2 separate regions of the Homo sapiens genome follow, and region 2 is linked to region 1. Evidence: fine-mapped expression QTL. A gene starts in region 1. The other region holds a variant in brackets. All regions are shown on one strand. Distances are from middle to middle. Region 1 holds the start of PLPP2 (phospholipid phosphatase 2). Region 2 overlaps C2CD4C (C2 calcium dependent domain containing 4C).

Region 1 (10,274 bases):
TGATGCTACCAATCCTCTTTTCTGATATTCCAGATTTCTATTTAGTCTGTTTCACAAAATTTTTATTTCCCATATTGTATATTTTAATAGGTGCTCTTATGTGTTTTTAATTTTTCTGCTGAAATTCTCCATTTTCTCACCTTGCCCCTATCTTTTCTTCTGTAATCTTTAACCTTTTAATAATAGTTACTTTAAATCATTGTCATCCTATTGCTTTGCTTTTTTTTTTTTTTTTTTTTTTTTGAGACGAGGTCTCGCTCTATCGCCCAGGCTGGAGTGCAGCGGCGTGAACTCGGCGCACAGCAACTGCCACTTCCCAGGTTCAAGTGATATTGTCCTGCCTCAGCCTCCCGAGTAGCTGGGACTACAGGCACCCACCACCATGCCCGGCTAGTTTTTGTATTTTTAGTAGAGACGAGGTTTCACCATGTTTGCCAGGATGGTCTTGAACTCCTGACCTCAGGTGATCCACCCGCCTCGGCCTCCCAAAGTGCTGGGATTACAGGCGTGAGCCACTGAGCCCAGCCCTTTTTTTCCTTTTCTTTTTCTTTTTTTTTTTGAGACGGCGTCTCGCTTTGTTGCCCAGGCTGGAGTGCAGTGGTGTGATCTCAGTTCACTGCAACCCCTGCCTCCCAGGTTTAAGTGATTCTCCTGCCTCAGCCTCCGGAGTAGCTGGGATTACAGGCGCACACCACCACACCGCACACGCTGCCACGCCCGGCTAATTTTTGTATTCTTAGTAGAGACGGGCTTTCACCATGTTGGCCAGGCTGGTCTCAAACTCTTGACCTTGTGATCTGCCCTCCTCGGCCTCCCAAAGTGCTGGGATGACAGGCGTGAGCCGCTGTGCCCAGCCCGAAAGTTATACTCTTAAGACCCAGTCCGGGGATGCCAGGGCCTCCAGAAACAGGAATCAGGAGTCACCATCCACATTATGATGTTTCGGTGCTTCTATTTCTCTGCTGCCCGAACTGACCTTCTTCTCAGGGGCAGCGCCCTTTGTGGCGACTGAGATGGCACCAGAAGCTCCAGGCACACAACCTTACATCTGTGATTTCTGTGGGAAGCCTGTATCTTGCCCAACTGTTCTAACAAAACTCCTGGGTAAAATTTGTTCTTGGGTCTCGTGCCCATAACTGAATCAGGAACTGCCGAGCAGAAGGGGTTTCCTGGTTGGCCAGGCCAGGGTCCCTTGTTCCCCTTCGGTAGCAGGGCAGGCCCCATGGAGAAGGAATAGTAAGAGGGAGGAGCACATGGGCAGGCCGGGCGCAGCCACCCAGAGGCATGAGCGTCCCATTTGTGTGGGGTGAGCACAGAGGTCAGGAGGGCAGTGCAGGAACAACTTCCCTCTTAGGCCAAGAAATCTGAAACTGGGAAGGCAGTGGGGAGCCTTAGTGTGTTTTTTAGCTGAAGTAGAGTCACGCTTTAGGGAGATTGGATTTGACTGGAATATCTAAGATAGGTTGGAGCTGGGAGAGACCCTGGGATGCCATTGTTGACTAATATTCTGTTCTTGTCCATGGTGTCTTGTGTTTCTGAGGGTGCACTAGATGTGGGTAAGACAGTTAAGGAGCAGAGGGGATACTGTTTTGCCTCAGGAAGGGCTTGCCCCTCTCCTGTCAGCAGCTGGGTTGATGTGCTGGTCTCGAGGAGCTGGGCTGGCCTGCTCACCGCTTGTGTAGCGTAGCTTTGCCTCTGGGTTAGCTGTGGGGTGGTGGAATCCTGCCCTTCCTGCAGCCCAGACCCAGGCAGGAGGACCTGGAGGGCCCGCTGTGCCTTGGGGCTCTTCCGGATTTGTCTGACACCAGGCTCCTAGGACTAATGAGGCCTCCACCAGACTTGGTCTTGACTAACCTCAGGGGAGCTCATACCTCTCTAGAACAAACTTACTGTCCTCAGCTTTTCGGCAGCCATAAATAAAAGTCATTTGTGTTCGTTTATTTAATGCTTTCCTTTTACAGTGAAGTGAAGGTCTTTGATGACCTCCTTCCTACCTGCTAACCAAATATGGAAATCTGTTCTGGACAGAGTCCATGGCCGTGCCAGGAAGCAGGCGTTAGCCAGGGGCCTGCCTGGAGATCAGCCCTCCTGAGACAATTTCTGTGGGGGTGGAAGTGGGGGAGGGAGAAAGTCGCTCAGAACTGATGGTCCTGGACCGGCCACGGTCCCCAGAGCCTCAGCCTCCCAGGCCCAGGCTTTGTTGAAGATGTCCGGGCCCTGGACTGGCGCTGTCTGGGCCCCCACTGACCTGACCCAGCTGTTTCTCTCTCCCTGATGGTCCTTGTTTTCTCGGTTTGTAGTTCCTGGGTAGGATGGCCAGATAAAATACAGGATGCCCAGTTGGGCTCGGATTACAGATAAACGAATGTGTAAGTATGTCCCATGCAGTATTCGGGACACATACTGAAAACCGGTTTGTTGCTCTTCTGGGATTCAAATGTAACGGGGTGTCCTGTTTGTTTCACAGGTATCAGGACTCAGCTAGGGGGTCCTTGATGTTTATTTGCCCCATTGCTGGGCTGTTCTCAGGAGGATGTTGAGACCCTGGCGTGGAGCGCCTCCTCGGCGTGTCCAGCAGAGGGCGGCCGTGCCTCCCGGAGGCATCGCGGGGCCCAGAGCGCAGCCCAGCCCCGTCCCCTGGTCCTGTGGCTCGAGGTCGGGGAGGGAGGGGCGGTGGTCGCTGCGGGGCAAATGTTTCCACTCACCCGGAGCCACGACCCACGGCCTGTGCAGGGAGAGTCGAAAGCGCGGCCCCCGGTGAGCACTTGGGAGGTGAACCGGTTCCCCGCCCTGGTGGGCTGTCACCAGTCACATCAAGAGATGCAGGACGGCGGTGGCCTCACCAGAGGCATTACGAGTTCTCTGGAGCCCCTCCGCCACCACCGTCCTTGTTCTTCCTTGAGTCGGAACCAGGTCCTTGGGGTCTGTGGGTGCTCAGTGGCTTTGCAGACCTGCAAAGATTTGAGGTCTTCCAGGTGCCTCTCCTTGCCTTCACCAGATGCTGGTTTCGGGGGCAGGGATAGGGCTGCCAGGCATCAGGAAGGTTTGTGAACGGGGATTTAATCGAGTGTTTCGCGGGGTGGCCCCTGCCATCTCTGCCCCTCGTTTTGTACGAGAAGCAGGCGGAAACCAGCTCTCCCTTTGAGAACGCACTGTTGCCCTCCGCTGTTGCTTGTGTGTCTTGCCTTGCTGTGACCCAGGGAGAGCTCCCTGCAGCTGTCAGCTCCCTGGTGACCTCAGGCTCTGGGCATCCCAGTAAGCACGGCTTGCGCACCCACTGTGTGCCAGCTCCCACTTTCCTGGAGCTCGTGGGAGGAGACGGGGACAGTGAACGAACGCACAGACTGAGATGGTGGGAGGGGCTGTGCGTTCCGGGTTGTCTGCACGAGGGGCTCTGGCAGGGGGGCCGCGTCCCGGCTTGTCTGCGCGAGGGGCTCTGGCGACCACGTCCAGCACTACTGCTGTGTGTTTTTCTTTGCTGTGACCCAGTGAAGACCTCCTCACAGACAGAGCACAGCAGACTCGCGGTGCTGAAACCCGGAGGGTTACCCTGTCCCTGACTGACTGTAAGGTTACACTAAATTAAGAGGCACTCCAAGGATTGCAAAGTCCGAGGGGAATTTTGAATTCGTGGGTCCTGGATTGTGAATTTGAAGGCAGCGGTTTCCAACCCTTTTAAATCTTGACCCCAGGAAGAAGTACCTTCTACATCTTGACCCAGCAAACACGTGATACCTACCCACACTGTATTTTGTTCAATTAACCCTCAAATGATGTTTCCTAATGTTTGGCCCTGGGTCAAGCATTTCACAAACTATTTAATCTTCTCTACAATCCCAGGTGGTAGCTACTGTCTTGCCGCCTTTATGCAGACAGAGACTGAGGGATACCTTAGATGTCTTTCCAAACCATCCACCCCCTCAGCCTTCCCTGCCCACTGCCTGCACGTCAAACCCACTGACGGGCACTCGTTCGACTCCAAGAGCCCCGTGCCAGGAACCTGGGAGACAACTCCCGTTTTGACTCTGGGCAAGGTACTTCACCTCTCAAGTCCCAGAGAAGCAGAGAAAGCAACGGCAGGTATAGTGGCTGGCTGCACTTAGGTGGCACCTACTGTGTGCCAGGCCCCCTTCTGCCCACTTCACAGGTGTCTTAGTCTCCATAGAGTCCATTTGGAAACAGGCCCGGAGCCATCCAGGTTGCGATGAGGCACCAAGGTGGCAGAGCCAGTGCTGGGCAAGAGGCGGGAGCTGCAGTTGCTGAACCCGTGAGCTTGCTTGCCTGGGAGTGGCGACCTGGCCCTCAGGGGTTGCTTGTCTCTAGGGGACCCAGCCTGGGTACATGTACCACCACCCGCTTCCAGCTCTGCTATTTGCAGGTGAAGGAGAAAGCCACTGAGGCCTGGCCTCCAGGCCAGGCTCTGTCCCTGCTGGGAGCTGCCCTGGCCTCAGGTTCTTCCTGGAAGGGAGGACCAGGCAGCTGGGGGCAGCAGCAGATCCAGCTATGAAAGCCGTGACAAGAAGTTCCTTGAAGTGTGGTGGGCTGCAGTCAGCATATGTAGGAGACGACCCCAATCCTGACCCTAATCCTAATTCTTGCTTTCCCCACCAGATTTTAATCCTTATCCTGCCCAGGGATTTTAAGGGCTAACCCAAATCCTGACCCAAGGGGAAGGATGGAAGGGGGAACAGCCTGCAGCCTCACCTCCACCCTCTATCCTCCCAGGTCTACCTCCACCCCTCTCCTGGGTCTCTCCCTCTTGGCTTGGCCCCATCCCACAGCCCCCACTGTCTTCCCCCCGCTCCCACTTTGGCAGGCCCCTCCAAGTGACCTCTCCCTTGCTCCCCAGCACACAGTAGGTGCTCAATGAAGAACACCGCCTTTCCTTGACTCCAGTAGATGTTGCACCCTCTCCATCTTAGGAGAAAATGTGCGTTGGCTGTCAAGACTACACTGACAGCAGTGGTCACTCATTTGCAGACAGGGTGAAGTGTGGGGGAAAGCGCAGTAGTGACGCTGAACCCTACATTTATGTAGCATTGATGCTAGGCACCAGAACCCTCACAATCCTAATTCCGACGGGAGCTAGAGCCCCCCCACCCCACCGTGAGTGCAGCAAGGGAGCACCTCAACCCTGCCCTTGGAGGGCCACAGGTCAGCTTGCACCGTCTTCCCACCCAGCACCACTCTGGGTGCCTTTGCTGTCTCCCAAGAGCCCCTTGCCCTTGGAGTTCCCTCATGATGCCCCCCTGCCCCACGTGCAGGTGTCTGACCATCCGGGAAGCAGGGTCGAGGAGCTCCCAGTTGAAGTCCAGTTGCTGAGACGCACCCTGTTTTGGTGTTGCTGGGGCAGGGGGCTGATGGTGGTGCTGAACGGGTTTTAGAGGAGGGTCAGGGTGGCAGCGGATCTGGGGCCCAGCAGCCTTGTTTCTGACCCCAGGCCTGCCACTTCCCATTTAAGTGACCGTGAGTGGCAGAGGTCAAGGCTGGACTCCGGAAACGTGGGTCTGACACTCCTGAGGCCTCCCGGATGGTCCCAGCCGAAAGGACCCAGTGTGGGTCCCTTGGGCCTGGGTTTCCCTGGCTCAGGTGCCCTCAATCCCCAGGCACCCTCAGCTCAGGGCTCCCCACGACCTGGTGGGGGCACAGACCCCGGCGCCATTTCATGGGGTTCCCAGCTCCTGGCGCCCCCGTGCTCTTCTGTGAAATGGGACAGCAAGTGCGCTGATAGGAACGGTGCCTGGGCACAGGGCTGCGCCTGGACACCCTACGCCGTCGCAAGGTGGGTGCCGAGGAACTCGAGCTTCTAACGTGCCAGGGGTCCAAGGACGCGCCAGGATTTTGAGTATTAGGAGAAAAGAAACTCCTGAAATGAAGCCACGTCGCCCCTTCCACTTTAAGGTGCCTCCTGCTGTCGGAGTTTCCAGGCGCACACGGCGCGGCTGCCACTCCCTGAGGAGGAAAGTCGGGAACCGTCCCGCGGGGCCGGTCCCGCCGCTGCTCGTCCTCCTTCTCCACGTCCCCGCCCGGGGCTCCGCCGGCCCGACCCGCGGGGAACCTCCAGCCTCTGAGGACCTCACGCCGCTCGGAGACCCGCACAGCCCGGGTCAGGGCCGGGACTCCGGGCGGACGAGGTCCCCGTGGCGCCCGCACGCTCGCCCCACCCGCTCTTTTGGGCGCCGCGGCCAGGCGGGGGCAGAGTCCGCGCGGTCCCGGGTCCGCCGCGCCCCGCCCCCCCCGCTGCTCCCCTGCCCGCCGCTGCCGTCCCCCCTCCCTCCTCCCCTCCCCCCCTTCTTCCCTTCCCTCCCCCTCCCCCCTCCCCTCCCCGCCCCTAGCCCTCCCCTCCTCCCCTCCCCCTCCCTCCTCCCCTCCCCGCCCCTAACCCTCCCTCCTCCCCTCCCCTCCCCTCCTCACCTCTCCCCTCGTGCCCTCCCCGCCCCTCCCCTCCTCCCCTTCCCGCCCCTCCCCTCCTCTCCGCGCGGGGCGGGCTCCGCGCCACGTGACTCCGCGGCCGGGCCGGGACGCGACGGGACGCGCTGGGACCGGCGTCGGGGGTCGCGGGGACCATGCAGCGGAGGTGGGTCTTCGTGCTGCTCGACGTGCTGTGCTTACTGGTCGGTAAGAGCCTTGGGGACCCGGGTGTTGGGGGGACCCTCCCGGGACGGACACGCCCCCGGCTGCGCGCAAGTTTGCAGGGGAACGCGGAGGCTGCGCGCCCTCGTCCCTCCGAGGACCCTGGAGGCGGGGACCTCGCGTGAGGACCAGACCTCCCTCCGCGCCCCGCACTGCGCGCGCCCTCCCAGGCTCGGGGGTCCCCGCGTCCCAGGCCCAGGGGGATGGGGGTCGCGAGAGGCCCGGGGAGCCGGGGCCAGCATCCCCCGCCCCGGCAGCAGGAAGTCTGTGCGGAGGGGCCGCGCGCGCGCCTCCATCCCGCCCCGCCTGGCCTGGGAGGTGAGTCACGCGGGCCCGGGAGGTGGGGGCGGCCGCGGGTTACCCCGGCAGGACGTCCGCGCCTCCGCCCCTGGGGTGGGCGCTCCCGCTGCGCGCGGAGAGGGCTGACCCTCGGTCCTGGCACCCGGTGCGTCGGCGGGATTCGAACCCGTGCACGTGCGGGGAGGCCCAGCCGCCCTGCTGGCTCGGGCGGGGGAGACACTGGGGATGAAGGCTGGGTCCCAGGCTTCGGGTGAACGGGGTGGCGGGGGGCCGGGAGGCCAGGAGAACCAAACCTGTCCGGCGGGTTTGCGGGCCACACTGGCGGAATGGGCATCCCGAGGCCCCCCTCCCGCAGGGTCCCGGGAACAAAGGCCGAGTGTTTGCTCTGTGGCTGCACAGACAATGGCCCTGGAATTCTATCTCTGGGGGGTGCCCTCCTCCCCAACGTGTTTCCTGCTTCTCTGCCATCTCACAGCAGAGGCCAAGTCCTCTTACCTCCGGAAGGAGACCCTTTTTTAGGGTGGGCCAGGTGACAGCAAGAAGTCCCTGTGGGTGTCTGCCAGCCCGTGGTACCATTTCCTGAGCACCTATGGTGTTATTTATGTAAACATTTAGGTGGCACTTTCTGTATGCCAGGAACTAAGCAACATGCAAATAACAAACATTTCCCTTACAACAGCCTGTGAGGGAGGTGCTGAGTCACCTGCCGGAGGTCACACAGCAGCGGGAGGTACAGCCGAGATGGGGTTGGCTGTTGCTGCTGTGTGCCAGGGGTGGTGGCCAGGCCGAGTGCACCTCTATGCTGGAAGCTTGAGCACACCACAGTTCAGTCAACACTGAGGTTCCAGATGCTGGCATGAGGGCAGTGTGAGGGCGGGAGGGCTCCCGGGGGCTAAATGAAGAGAAGGTGTCTGTTTTGGGGACCCCAGGGAGAGCTTTCCAGGCCGAGGGAAGCCCGGCGCCTGTCGTTATGGGGGTGCCTGCGTCTCTAGTTGGAGTTGCTGGGGCAGGGAGGTCGGAAACGGAGGCTAACCTGTGTGAGCCTCCGCCCGATAAGAGCTGTGGTCGGGCTGCACTCCCTTCTGGGCATCTCGTAACCCTGACTTTCCACCCGGCCGGCAACTGCAGGAGCCTCCTCCAAGGCCTCTCCCTTCACAGCAGCTCCAGCCCCTCCTGTGTGGGAGCAGAAGGCAGGTTCTTACATCCCGCCCTCTCCGCCGTCCTGCCCTGCCTCCAGGCCCTGGCGCTGCCCTTTTTTTTTCTTTCTTGAGACAGAGTCTCGCCCTGTCGCCAGGCTGGTGTGCAGTGGTGCAATCTCGGCTCACTGCAACCTCTGCCTCCTGAGTTCAAACGATTCTCCTGCCTCAGCCTCCCGAGGAGCTGGGACACCGCCACACCCAGATAATTTTTGTATTTTTAGTAGAGTTGGGGTTTCACCGTGTTAGCCAGGATGGTCTCGATCTCCTGACCTCGTGATCTGCCCGCCTCGGCCTCCCAAAGTGCTGAGCCACCACGCCGGGCCTGCCCATTCTGTTCTGCATTCCCTCACCTTTCTTGCTCGGTGAGGCAGGCCTCTGTTTTCTTCACCAGATTATTTCCCCAGACTTAGCCAGCATGGAAGGTGTACGGTGTCCTAGGGCCCTTGGAGTTAGCATGTCGGGAGGAGTGTGGGGCTCCCTGCCCCTCCGCTGACATTCAGAACTTAGAAAAGCCACACCCTTTTGTACTTGCCCTGCTGGGCCAAAGGATGCCCTGCCTTGGTTTGTCTCTGGGCTAGCCGACCCGGGCTTTTGTTGTGCGCCTGCCCTCTGCCCCGTTCTCCGTAGATGACTCCTGCTTCCCTGGCCACCCTCAGCTCAGCAGGGCCCCAGGAGCCCCAGTGCCATGGCAGCACCTTCCATAAGTGGCTCCTGAATGTGTCTTTGATCCCTGAGGCCAGGGCTGGGTCTGTCCTGGTCACCACGTGGCTGGTCGATGAAGGGGCAAGTGCGTGAGCGAAGGTGTCTCAGCTGTGCCCTTCCTTGGCTTCTTCCTGACTTCTCTGGCCTGCTCTTAGGTTAAAAGAAGTCCTGCCTTATTTTAACCGATGTTTATTAAACATCTGCCCTGGCCAGGCCCTGAGCAGGCTCCAGGGACTCTGCCCTGAATACGGTAGGCCCCTCCTGGTGCCGGTGGGTGGATGGGGGGAAATCAATTCCAGTGTCCCACACGTGACTGCCAAATTCCACATGAGGTTTGCATAAGGAAGAGGGAAAAAGAGCAGACCTTTCCTTCTGTGAGAGGGATGCTGGCATGGACAGTCAGCAGGGGAGATGAGAGTGGAGGTTACTCAGAGCTACTTTGGGGCCCCGCACATAAATTAGAGATACTTTGGGGCCTGGCACGTTGGCTCACACCTGTAATCTCAGCACTTTGGGAGGCTGATGCTGGAGGATCGCTCCAGCCCAGGAGTTTGTGACCAGCCTGGTCAACATGAGACCCCTGTCTCTACTTTTAAAAATTTAAAAAAAAAAGATATTTTGGGCAGAGAGAAGTGGCTGTGCAAAGGTGGGTGTTTGCTGAGTTAGTTCAAGGAGCAGAAAGGAGGCTGCCAGGATGTGAGGGGCAGAGCGCCTGAGGAGTTTGTGTTTGTCTGAGGGGATGCGAAAGGGAGTGTTATTTGGGCTGTGAAAAAAGCTCTTCCTTGCTGTCTGGTGAGAGTAGAGGTGGGAGGCCTCCAGGCCAAGGCAGGTGTGTGGGGCCCCAAGGCCCAGCTGGTGAGAGAACCTCACAGCTCCCAGGCTTTTCTTCCCCACCAGCCTCCCTGCCCTTCGCTATCCTGACGCTGGTGAACGCCCCGTACAAGCGAGGATTTTACTGCGGGGATGACTCCATCCGGTACCCCTACCGTCCAGATACCATCACCCACGGGCTCATGGCTGGGGTCACCATCACGGCCACCGTCATCCTTGTAAGGCAGGAGGGGCTCAGAGGGACTGGGTAGGGGGATGGGGTGGGGCCAGCTTTACCCTGGGGGCCTGATGGGGGGGTGGCACAGCCCTGCCCTGGAGGTCTGTGTGGGGCCGGGGGACACAGCCTTGCCCTGAGTGGTACCTGTGGGTAATAGGGCCCCCTTCAGAGTCCCCAGCTCTCCAGCAGCCTTGGGGAGGCCCGTGCGGAGGAGTGAGGGCCCCTGGGCCGACCGAGACCCCCACTGGTTCCTGCGGCTGCTCTTGCAGGTCTCGGCCGGGGAAGCCTACCTGGTGTACACAGACCGGCTCTATTCTCGCTCGGACTTCAACAACTACGTGGCTGCTGTATACAAGGTGCTGGGGACCTTCCTGTTTGGGGCTGCCGTGAGC
Region 2 (10,741 bases), 110 kb before region 1:
GGGCGGGGCCGTGGACAGGGAGGTGACAAGTCTTGGAGCCCACAGTCTCCTTCACTGCACGTGTGTCTTCCTCCCCCACAGCCTGCCGCCATCCAGTTCCCACCCCGCGGAGAGCAGGGCCTCGCGGCCACACCAGGCCCAGGCTCTGCCCGGGACGCCCCCTCCCAGGGGTCAGGCTTGGCTCTGGGAGACCCCAGCTTCCCAGGCTCCGGTGGGGAGTGGGGCCAGGCGAGGGTGCCCTGACGAGGGTGGGCGCGGAGGGAGCAGCCGCTGCCACAGTCGGAGCAGAGGAGGTCTTGGCAGAGGTCCGCGGGGAGGAGACGGCTCTCCTGGCCTGTTTTCCTCCAACACTGTCGCCGCTGGCTTTTTGGGTACAGGCCCGTCTGGCCATTTCTGCTGTGGCGCCGGAGGGTCTTGCTCAGAGATGCCCAGAGAGCAGCCCTATGGCCCATCCGTCCTCGCTGGGGGCTGCCACCCCGTCGCCCTTTTGTCCAGCGTCTGCAGCTGGGAGCGACACGCAGTGATTGACGGCCGTGGCTTTGACGCCACGTGTGTAAATAGGCTGTGGCTACGGTGGGTGGGTCGGAGCCCAGGAGGCAGCTGGGGGGACCTGGCTATGGCCTTTCCTGCTGTTAGGTGGCTGCAAGGCTTCCATTGTGTGGTTATGTGGGTCCTTGAATGATTTTGGGGAGGTTTCCAGCTCAGAATGATGCAGAAATGATAAGACTCAAAGCAGGGGCCAGGCCAGGCCAGTGCCTTCGCCTCTCCCGGCTGCTGGTGGGCACGGAGGAACCAGGGCACATCTGTGGTACCCAGGGACGTCCCTTGTCAGCCCGTTTGCCACACATTGTTCCTCTTGTCCAGGGGAGGGTGGAGGAGCTGCTTCCCAGGACTGGAGGAGCAGCTGGGCCCCTGCTGCACGTCCGGTGGGACACACCTGTGAGCCCTCCAGAGGGAGAGTGCAGGCCCCTTCTGAGCCTGGTGTTGCAGGGCTCCGCTCTCTCCCGGAAGCCAGGGCACCCAGGGCGGAGGCTCCTCAGGCCGGGGAGGCGGGGAGGGTGCCCTGCATGGAGAGAGACGCCGGCGCTCCCCGCCTTCTCTGATGCTCACCCCTCCCAGGCCCTGTTCTCCCTGGGGTCCCCCGTTTAGTAGCCCCCCTGCACTCTTTGATATCTTAGTGTCTGAGGTTGACTGTGGGTAAATCTTTAAGACACTCCCCAGCTGTGTTTGTTTATAAATGCTGTTTATAGTGCAATAAAGGTGTTTCGGGAATACGGGGGTGGAGGTTGGCTTCCCTGGCTGTTTAATAACGAGAGAGTTCTGCGGTGAACTCCAGGGAGGAAGGAGAAGAGGATTCCAGATTGGCAAGGTCCTTTCCACTGCCCTCCGCATTCTCCTGCCCCGGGTGGAGGCAGGCGGGGGCAGGAGCCCAGCCCCTGATAAACCACCTCCCTTGGAGCGGCAGGTCTGGGTTCTGCTTCACGGTTCCAGCTCTTGACTACATGGATGTCAGGAAACAGGACTCGGACCCCACACGGTCCCTACAGGGTGGGTCCCGCCTCCCCTCAGAACCTTCAGACAGGACCCTGTCTCCACAGACCCCCTCTAGACACAGCCCCGTATCCCCCTCACACCCCTCAGGGCAGGACCCCGTTCCCCCCACACCCCTCAGGGCAGGACCCCGTTCCCCTCACACCCCTCAGGGCAGGACCCCATCCCCCCTCCACACCCCTCAGGGCAGGACCCCGTTCCCCCCACACCCCTCAGGGCAGGACCCCGTTCCCCCCACACCCCTCAGGGCAGGACCCCGTCCCCCCCCCACACCCCTCGGGACAGGACCCCGTCCCCCCCTCACACCCCTCAGGGCAGGACCCCGTCCCCCCCTCACACCCCTCAGGGCAGGACCCCGTCCCCCCTCCACACCCCTCAGGGCAGGACCCCATCCCCCCTCCACACCCCTCAGGGCAGGACCCCGTTCCCCCCACACCCCTCAGGGCAGGACCCCGTTCCCCCCTCCACACCCCTCGGGGCAGGACCCGTCCCCCCCTCAGACCCCTCAGGGCAGGACCCCATCCCCCCTCCACACCCCTCAGGGCAGGACCCGTCTCCCCCTCAGACCCCTCAGGGCAGGACCCCGTCCCCCCCACACCCCTCAGGGCAGGACCCCGTCCCCCCCACACCCCTCAGGGCAGGACCCCGTCCCCCCCACACCCCTCAGGGCAGGACCCCGTGCCCCCCCCACACCCCTCAGGGCAGGACCCCGTCCCCCCCCCACACCCCTCAGGGCAGGACCCCGTCCCCCCCACACCCCTCAGGGCAGGACCCCGTCCCCCCCTCAGACCCCTCAGGGCAGGACCCCGTCCCCCCCCCACACCCCTCAGGGCAGGACCCCGTCCCCCCCACACCCCCTCAGGGCAGGACCCCGTCCCCCCCTCAGACCCCTCAGGACAGGACCCGTCCCCCCCACACCCCTCAGGGCAGGACCCCGTCCCCCCCACACCCCTCAGGGCAGGACCCCGTCCCCCCCCCACACCCCTCAGGGCAGGACCCCGTCCCCCCCACACCCCTCAGGGCAGGACCCCGTCCCCCCCACACCCCTCAGGGCAGGACCCCGTCCCCCCCTCAGACCCCTCGGGGCAGGACCCCGTCCCCCCCACACCCCTCAGGGCAGGACCCCGTCCCCCCCACACCCCTCAGGGCAGGACCCCGTCCCCCCCTCACACCCCTCGGGGCAGGACCCGTCCCTGTGCTCTCAGCCCAGGCTGGGCTGCTCTGTCTCTCCTGCTGCCCATGGGGTCCAGATGTCTCTGCCATCTCAAATCCACCAGGAGCTTTTGGGAATTGGGGTTCAGCGTAGCCCGGCCTCCTGACCGCGGCCTGGTGAGCCCCAGTCAGGGCCTGGGACGGGTTGACAGGGCTACGGGCGCCTTGTAGCCTCTTCAGCCCCAGCCACTCATCGCTAGGCTGCACGGGTGTGTGCGTGTGCGTGCCAGGTAGGTGCACACACGTCGCCATGTGCTTCCGCATGTGTGTGCAGTGTGACTGCGTGTGCCGTTACCGTGCTCATCTGTTGGGCGTATGTGACAGTGCCAGGTGAGCGCCTGCAGGCACTCGAGTATAGCTGCCTGTGTGCTGGCGTGTGCACGTGTAAGCACGTGAGCCGTGTATGCATGTGTGACCCTGTGTGCGCTTGTGTGTGCCTGTGTCGCTGCTGGTGTGCACTTGTGTGTGCGTTTGTGTGTGCTGGTGTCTGGGAGCTGCAGCTGCCCATGCCCTCCCCCCTCCACTTCCAAGTGGGCGTCATCCAGGGATTCTGCGCCTGCGTGGTGTCTCGCCCTGCCTCAGGTCTTGGCCCACTGCCCTTCAGGTCAGCCCCCACCCCGGGGGAGTCAGATGCCCTTGTTCCCTCCTGGCTGTGGCCGTTTGCTGCCTTGTGATGTTGATCCTGAGCAGAACGAATCTACTGTTTGCACCTCCAGCATCCCTGGCGCCACAGAGCGCTCGGCCCCAGTGGGTGCTGTGCGGTGAAGGAGGCAGGCACACCTGCCAGCAGTCTCTCCTTTCAGACTGGCGGCCATCCTGAGTCTCCCGACCCTCAGGAAGGCCATGGGCACCACAAGCGGGGGGCACCCCGTTTGGTGCAAATTACAAAAAGATGCCCCTTCTTCAGAGGGGAGCCATCATAGGGAACAACAGATGAAGAGTCAGAAGCCTGGAGACATTGCGGACACCTGGATCCAGCTATGCCTGAAGTCCATAACTGCGCACCATTTCAGCTCAGAGGGTGGGCCGGTAAAGTGCCTTGTTTGCTCAAGCCGGCTTGTTTCAGTTTTTTTGTTTTGTTTTGTTTGTTTGTTTTTTGGAGACGGAGTCTTGCTGTGTCGCCCAGGCTGGAGTACAGAGGTGCAGTCTCGGCTCACTGTAGCCTCTTCTTCCAGGGTTCAAGCGATTCTCCTGCCCCAGCCTCCCAAATAGCTGAGATTACAGGCGCCCGCCACCACACCCAGCTAGTTTTTTGTATTTTTAGTAGAGACGGGGTTTCACCAAGTTGGCCAGGCTCGTCTCAAATTCCTGACCTCAGGTGATACGCCTGCCTCGGCCTCCCAAAGTGCTGGGATTACAGGCGTCAGCCACCACGTCCGGCTGATTCATTTTTTAAGGTGACAGAACACTGATCCAGTGGGTCTCTCCCATCCGAGGAGGAGGAGTAACACCTTCCCAGGGCCCCTGCCTTGCGGCCTGTCCTCTCTGGGGCCTTGAACCTCTAACCCTGACGTGTGTGGGGAGCCGCAGGGTGAGTTTCAAGCCCCACCTTCCACGTGGGGTGTGGCCCGGGGCAGTGCGTGGCTTCTCTGGGTCTCAGGCTCCCGAGGCCGAAGGCTCTGTCTGTGATGAGCCCTGGCGGCTTGTGTGCAGTAGAGCTCAATCCACAGGCTCGCCGGGCGGAAGCCGGCACAAAATAGCGACGATAATTAATATAATCACATCAGGGCCATAATTACAGGCGGCCTCAGACCCACCCAGGCGGGGGCTCCCTCGGCCTCTCTCTGCGGCACCCACCGCCCCAGTGCCGGATTCGATTAAGCTTTTGTTTTCTTCTCAGCTCCTGGGGGTGGGAGGGAGGGGCTGCCCACGGCCAGTTCCGCTGACAGGAGGAGAAAAATGACTTCAATAAAAAGGAGGAGGCGGACGCCGACCCGCACACATGCTCCTCCCACGAGGGCGGGCCATTCCCGCGGGCCGGCGCCTGAGCCTCAGTTTACCCTACTGTACAGTGACGTGGTCCCAGAGCCTCTCTCCAGGGTCACACGCAGGGCAGGGCCTGTTGATTAAGCGCATCGTGGGTGGGTGGGCGGGAGGACCCGCTGAATCCTCAGCAAGACGCTGCCTACTGCCATCCACAGATGGAAACACCGAGGCACAGAAGGCAAAGGGGCCTGCGCACACCTCCCAGCTGACAGGACAGGAATTCGGACCAGGGCTGGACCCACGCTGCCCTTCCTGGGTGGGACTGGACACCTGCTTGCATGGCCGGCCCCTGCCATCTGGCAGAGAGGGCCCCAGGGAGCTGTGCTCTGCCAGCCATGGGTCAGAATCCTGACAAGTCCCTCCGTTCTCTGTGACTCGGTTTCCTCTGCAGCACCCTGTACCCTCCCTGCCTGCTGGTGGGGCTGGAGTGGGCACGGACCCAGCACCCGTGGCACCCAGTCCTGGTCACCGGCTGAGCCCTGCTGCGGTGCCACGGATGAGACCCGCACCTTCCCCCGTGGGGTGAGGAATCCTCTC[G/A]TGCGGGGTGAGGTCTGGGCTTTGCCTTGGCTTTGGGAGGTGATTTCTGCCCTGCCTGAGGGGAGCGTCTTGGTCTGGGGTAGGGAGGGTCACACCAGCAAGACCAACCGTGGGACTTGGGAGCGCCTTGGGTCTCACAGCGTCAGACACCCTTGGAGTTCGAGGGCAACCCCGTGGCAAGCAATCAGTCAATCAAGCCCCCACGAGGGATCCCTCGCAGAGCTCTGGGCGCCTAGGCTGCCGTGCCCTTTCCTGGTGGTCCGTGCGCCCTGTGAGTGAGCAGTTCCCGGCTTCCCCGGACAGGACCACGGGGCTTCTCCGGGACGCTGCCTCATGTGCTCTTCCCCAGCCCACGGCACCTGCACCCCGGCACTGTGACAAACCCTACCTGTGACGAGGACAGCTTGCTGGGAGTTCCGTGCGTCCTCGCAAATCATCAAGCGTGAGGGTGAGCCTGGGAACCCCTGGAAGAGTGAGGGTGAGCCTGGGAACCCCTGGAAGAGTGAGGGTGGGCCTGGGGACCCCTGGAAGAGTGAGGGTGGGCCTGGGAACCCTGGAAGAGTGAGGGTGGGCCTGGGAACCCTGGAAGAGTGAGGGTGGGCCTGGGAACCGCTGGAAGAGTGAGGGTGGGCCTGGGGACCCCTGGAAGAGTGAGGGTGGGCCTGGGGACCCCTGGAAGAGTGAGGGTGGGCCTGGGAACCCTGGAAGAGTGAGGGTGGGCCTGGGAACCCCTGCAAGAGTGAGGGTGGGCCTGGGAACCCCTGCAAGAGTGAGGGTGGGCCTGGGAACCCTGGAAGAGTGAGGGTGGGCCTGGGAACCCTGGAAGAGTGAGGGTGGGCCTGGGAACCCTGGAAGAGTGAGGGTGGGCCTGGGGACCCCTGGAAGAGTGAGGGTGGGCCTGGGGACCCCTGGAAGAGTGAGGGTGGGCCTGGGGACCCCTGGAAGAGTGAGGGTGGGCCTGGGAACCCCTGCAAGAGTGAGGGTGGGCCTGGGAACCCCTGGAAGAGTGAGGGTGGGCCTGGGGACCCCTGGAAGAGTGAGGGTGGGCCTGGGAACCCTGGAAGAGTGAGGGTGGGCCTGGGAACCCTGGAAGAGTGAGGGTGGGCCTGGGGACCCCTGGAAGAGTGAGGGTGGGCCTGGGGACCCCTGGAAGAGTGAGGGTGGGCCTGGGGACCCCTGGAAGAGTGAGGGTGGGCCTGGGAACCCCTGCAAGAGTGAGGGTGGGCCTGGGAACCCCTGGAAGAGTGAGGGTGGGCCTGGGGACCCCTGGAAGAGTGAGGGTGGGCCTGGGAACCCTGGAAGAGTGAGGGTGGGCCTGGGAACCCTGGAAGAGTGAGGGTGGGCCTGGGAACCCTGGAAGAGTGAGGGTGGGCCTGGGAACCCTGGAAGAGTGAGGGTGGGCCTGGGAACCCTGGAAGAGTGAGGGTGGGCCTGGGAACCCTGGAAGAGTGAGGGTGGGCCTGGGGACCCCTGGAAGAGTGAGGGTGGGCCTGGGGACCCCTGGAAGAGTGAGGGTGGGCCTGGGGACCCCTGGAAGAGTGAGGGTGGGCCTGGGAACCCCTGCAAGAGTGAGGGTGGGCCTGGGAACCCCTGGAAGAGTGAGGGTGGGCCTGGGGACCCCTGGAAGAGTGAGGGTGGGCCTGGGAACCCTGGAAGAGTGAGAGTGGGCCTGGGAACCCTGGAAGAGTGAGGGTGGGCCTGGGAACCCTGGAAGAGTGAGGGTGGGCCTGGGGACCCCTGCAAGAGTGAGGGTGGGCCTGGGAACCCCTGGGCTGCCGTTGGGGCTGGAACGGGGGCACTGTTGTTGGGACACTGCCCTCTGACCTTTCAGCGTGGTTCACTCCAATCCCCGGGCCACAGAGTCCTCGTGGCCTCCCTGGGAGTGTGCACCTGCCCGGCCGTGGAGACACATGACCCTTGCCCCCAAGCTCCCCTCTCACCTCCCTAACCCCTTTGCCTGTGGCCCAGGCGGCTCAGAGGCACCCCCCCGCCCACCAGCCACTGTGTCCCCACCCTCCCCTCCCACCTGGGCTCCCCCAGCCAAGCCACAGAATGCTCCTTCCTCATCTCCCAAAGTCACGGGGACAGCTCAGATCAAGGACTGCAGCTCCCACACTGCCAGCCCCTCCCCCTCTCTGAGCCTCAGTTTCCTCCTGTGTAAGTGAGGTGCCCAGTGCACACTGCCCTCTAGGCTTCAGGTGATGGCAACATTGAGCTTTCAAAGCACTCACGCATAAACCTCATTCAGACCACGGGCCACTGTAGGTCAAAGGTGCGTCCGAGTGTTTACTAAGGAACGGCAGGACTGGACTGAGTTTTATACGCAGCAGGAGGAAGGAGGCACCTGCCGCTCAGGGACAAAACTCATCCGCATTTGTCAATCCCAAGCAGCGTCCAACCCCAGAGCCAGGACACTGGCAAGAGTGGAGGGAAGCGTCCACAAAGTGACCCCCGGGTGGCCGGGCTGGTCGAGGCTCTGGAATACAACTGATCCTCTGGGTGATTCGGCCCCTCGGGGACACGGGGCAACGTCTGGGGCTTCTGTGGTTGTCACGACTAGGGGAGCTCCTGGTGTGGAGTGGGCGGAGGCCAGGGACACTGCTCAGCACCCAGCAGTGCCCAGGACGGCCCCACCCCAGGGAATGATCAGCTCTGAGGCCCACCGTGCCGAGGGTCCAGGATCCAAAGAGCAGGCAGTGATGTTTTTACCCCTTTCCAAGTTCTGGATAATTTTCCCAAACCTGAGGATGAAACGAGAGAAGGCACATAAGCTGCCTAGCAAGGTGACTGCACATGGTGAGGGGTCTCACGTGTCGTCTGCACGCGGTGAGGGTCTCACGTGTCGTCTGCACGCGGTGAGGGTCACACGTGTCGTCTGCACGCGGTGAGGGTCACACGTGTCGTCTGCACGCGGTGAGGGGTCACGCGTCGTCTGCACGCGGTGAGGGGTCATGCGTGTTGGCTGTTCCCCTTTCCTTTGGCAAATGTGGACTGAGTGCTGCTGTGCCTTATGCTCGTGTCGGGGATACCACAGCTCCAGGGTGTCCCTGACATGATGTTCCCGGCCCTGCGCTCTCCAGAGCTGAGACTCACCCCATGGAGCAGTGGCCACTGGGCCTGTCCCCTCCAGACTGCTCCGCGCAATACAAAGTGGCAGTGGGTAGCTTCCAAACCCAGGCCATGAAAAGGAGGTGGCCCAGGGAGGCAGGTGCAGCTGGCAGCCCAGGTGGGCCCCAGCCTCCTGGTCTTAGAGCAGACTCCCAGATGTCATGGAGCAGGGGCACCATCCCTGGTCTGCCCGAGTTCCTTCCTGACTGAGGCTTTCTCATCGACAAGCATTGGGGTGGGTGCCTAGTCTGAGTCCTGCAAGGCTTGCCCTTGGAGGACTTCCTGGAAGAGGAGGCCAGAGGACAAAAGGGTTGTGAAGCCCCAGAGCAGAAAGGACTCAGCCCCAAAATTCCAAGGAGGCCTGTGGGTCACAGGACTGTAAGAGGAGTGTGGACTTTATCCTGTGGGCAAAGGGCTTGGATGAACGTTTTAGGATGACCTGAACTGTCTGGAAGGAAGGGGCATGGCCGGGCAGCACAGAAGCCAAGGGGAGGGCAGGGCACTGGTGCTGGGTCTGGATGGGCAAAGGCGGATGCCTGGCACCAGGGTGAGCAGAGAGGAGTAAGACACATTTGGAAGAGACTGAGGCTGCAAATCTTCCAGGATGTGTGAGGACTAGGTGTTCAGGATGGTGGACGGGGGTGAGGGGGTGCGCCGGCCGAGTCCTCTCTGTCAGCGCGTTCACCTACCTGCAAGCCCAGGAGCCTCTGCCTTCCAAACGCACCGGGAACCTTCTCAGCAAGCAGGTGGAGCTGCTGAAGGCAGCAGCACGACACGTCTCTGCCACACTCAGTGGATCACGCGGGGCAGCCCAGGCAGGAGGAATTCAAGAGCAGCCGACATGAACCTACCCGCTGCCAGCAATGGAAGTCAGGATGGGGCCCCCGGGGCAGGGACCAGGAGGGACGAGGGGCCTCTGGGGGCCGTCACAGGTGGCGTTTTCATTGGAGTGGGGGCTGCTATGGTCAGTTTGTTTATAAATGTTCACTGAGCTCATCAGGATCAAGTATCCAGAACACATAAACTATGCATACAACTCAGCAACAAAATGACCAACAACCCCATTAAAAAATAGGCAAAAGACTTCAATGGGCATTTATTGAAGAAGACACACAGCTCGTTTACATCATTCGAAACGTAGAAACAGCCCAAATGTCCATCGGCAGAGAGAGATGAACCACCGTGCGGCATATTCGTAGGCTGGAATAGTAGTCAATCACAAAAAAAATGGAGCACGGCCTTGAAACATGACACTCAGTGAAAAAACTCAGGCCAAAAGGACGCATATTGTCTGCTTATATTTACATGAAATGTCAAATATAGCTAAATCCAGAGGATTTCTTTCTGAGATAAGAAGAATGGTTTGGGGAGCTACACATGGTGGCTTGTACCTACAATCCTAGCAACGTGAGAGGCTGAGGCAGGAGGATCCCTTGAGCCCAGGAATTGGAGGCTGCAGTGAGCTGTGAATATGCCACTGTACTCCAGCCTGGGCCAAAAAGCAAGACACTGACTATTTATTTATTTATTTATTTATTTATTGAGACGGAGTCTCGCTCTGTCCCCCAGGCTGGAGTGCAGTGGCACGATCTTGGCTCACTGCAAGCTCCGCTCCCGGGTTCACACCATTCTCCTGCCTCAGCCTCCCCAGTAGCTGGTACTGCAGGCGCCTGCCACCACGCCTGGCTAATTTTTTTTTGTATTTTTAGTAGAGACGGGGTTTCACTGTGTTAGCCAGGATGGTCTCGATCTCCTGACCTCGTGATCCGCCCGCCTCGGCCTCCCAAAGTGCTGGGATTACAGGCGTGAGCCACCATGCCCGGCCCGACAATTTATTTTAAAAAAATGTTTTGGAGCTTAATAGAAGTTATAGTTGCACAACATTGCGAAGGCACTAAAAGACCCTGAATTGGTCGTGTTAAAGCGGTTAATATTACTTAAGGTGCGGTGGCTCACGCCTGTAATCCCAGCACTGTGGGGGGCCGAGACAGGCAGATCACAAGATCAGGAGATCGAGACCATCCTGGCTAACACGGTGAAACCCCCTCTCTACTAAAATTACAAAAAATTTGCCAGGCGTGGTGGCGGGCGCCTGTAATCCCAGCTACGTGGGAAGCTGAGGCAGGAGAATGGCATGAACCTGGGAGGCAGAGCTTGCAGTGAGCCGAGATCACACCACTGCACTCCAGACTGGGCGACAGAGCGAGACTCCGTCTCAAAAAAAAAAAAAAAAGGGAGTCTCAAAAAAAAAAAAAAAGGTGTCACCGAATGCTCTCACTTGGTGCCCAATCACCCATTCCATTCATCCTTCCCGTCGTCCTTCCCATCAACCTTCTCCATTCATCCT

What was found.
Region 2: its variant is fine-mapped to the expression of PLPP2 in thyroid (GTEx, PIP above 0.99).

The regions. Positions count from the first base shown.
Region 1 is chr19:287,629-297,902 of GRCh38, reverse strand. PLPP2 (phospholipid phosphatase 2) reads left to right here and starts at 6,500. Exons shown (of 6, transcript NM_003712.4): 1 at 6,500-6,618; 2 at 9,732-9,883; 3 at 10,152-10,274. The coding sequence starts at 6,567. RefSeq lists enhancers at 3,057-3,906, 6,606-7,303, 7,334-7,847, 7,304-8,002, 9,777-10,274.
Region 2 is chr19:395,976-406,716 of GRCh38, reverse strand. C2CD4C (C2 calcium dependent domain containing 4C) reads left to right here. Exons shown (of 2, transcript NM_001136263.2): 2 at 1-1,272. Among named protein-coding and RNA genes, the nearest start is that of C2CD4C, 7.8 kb to the left of the region's middle. RefSeq lists enhancers at 1-587, 7,532-8,731. The variant G/A (reference allele first, on the strand shown) is at 5,287.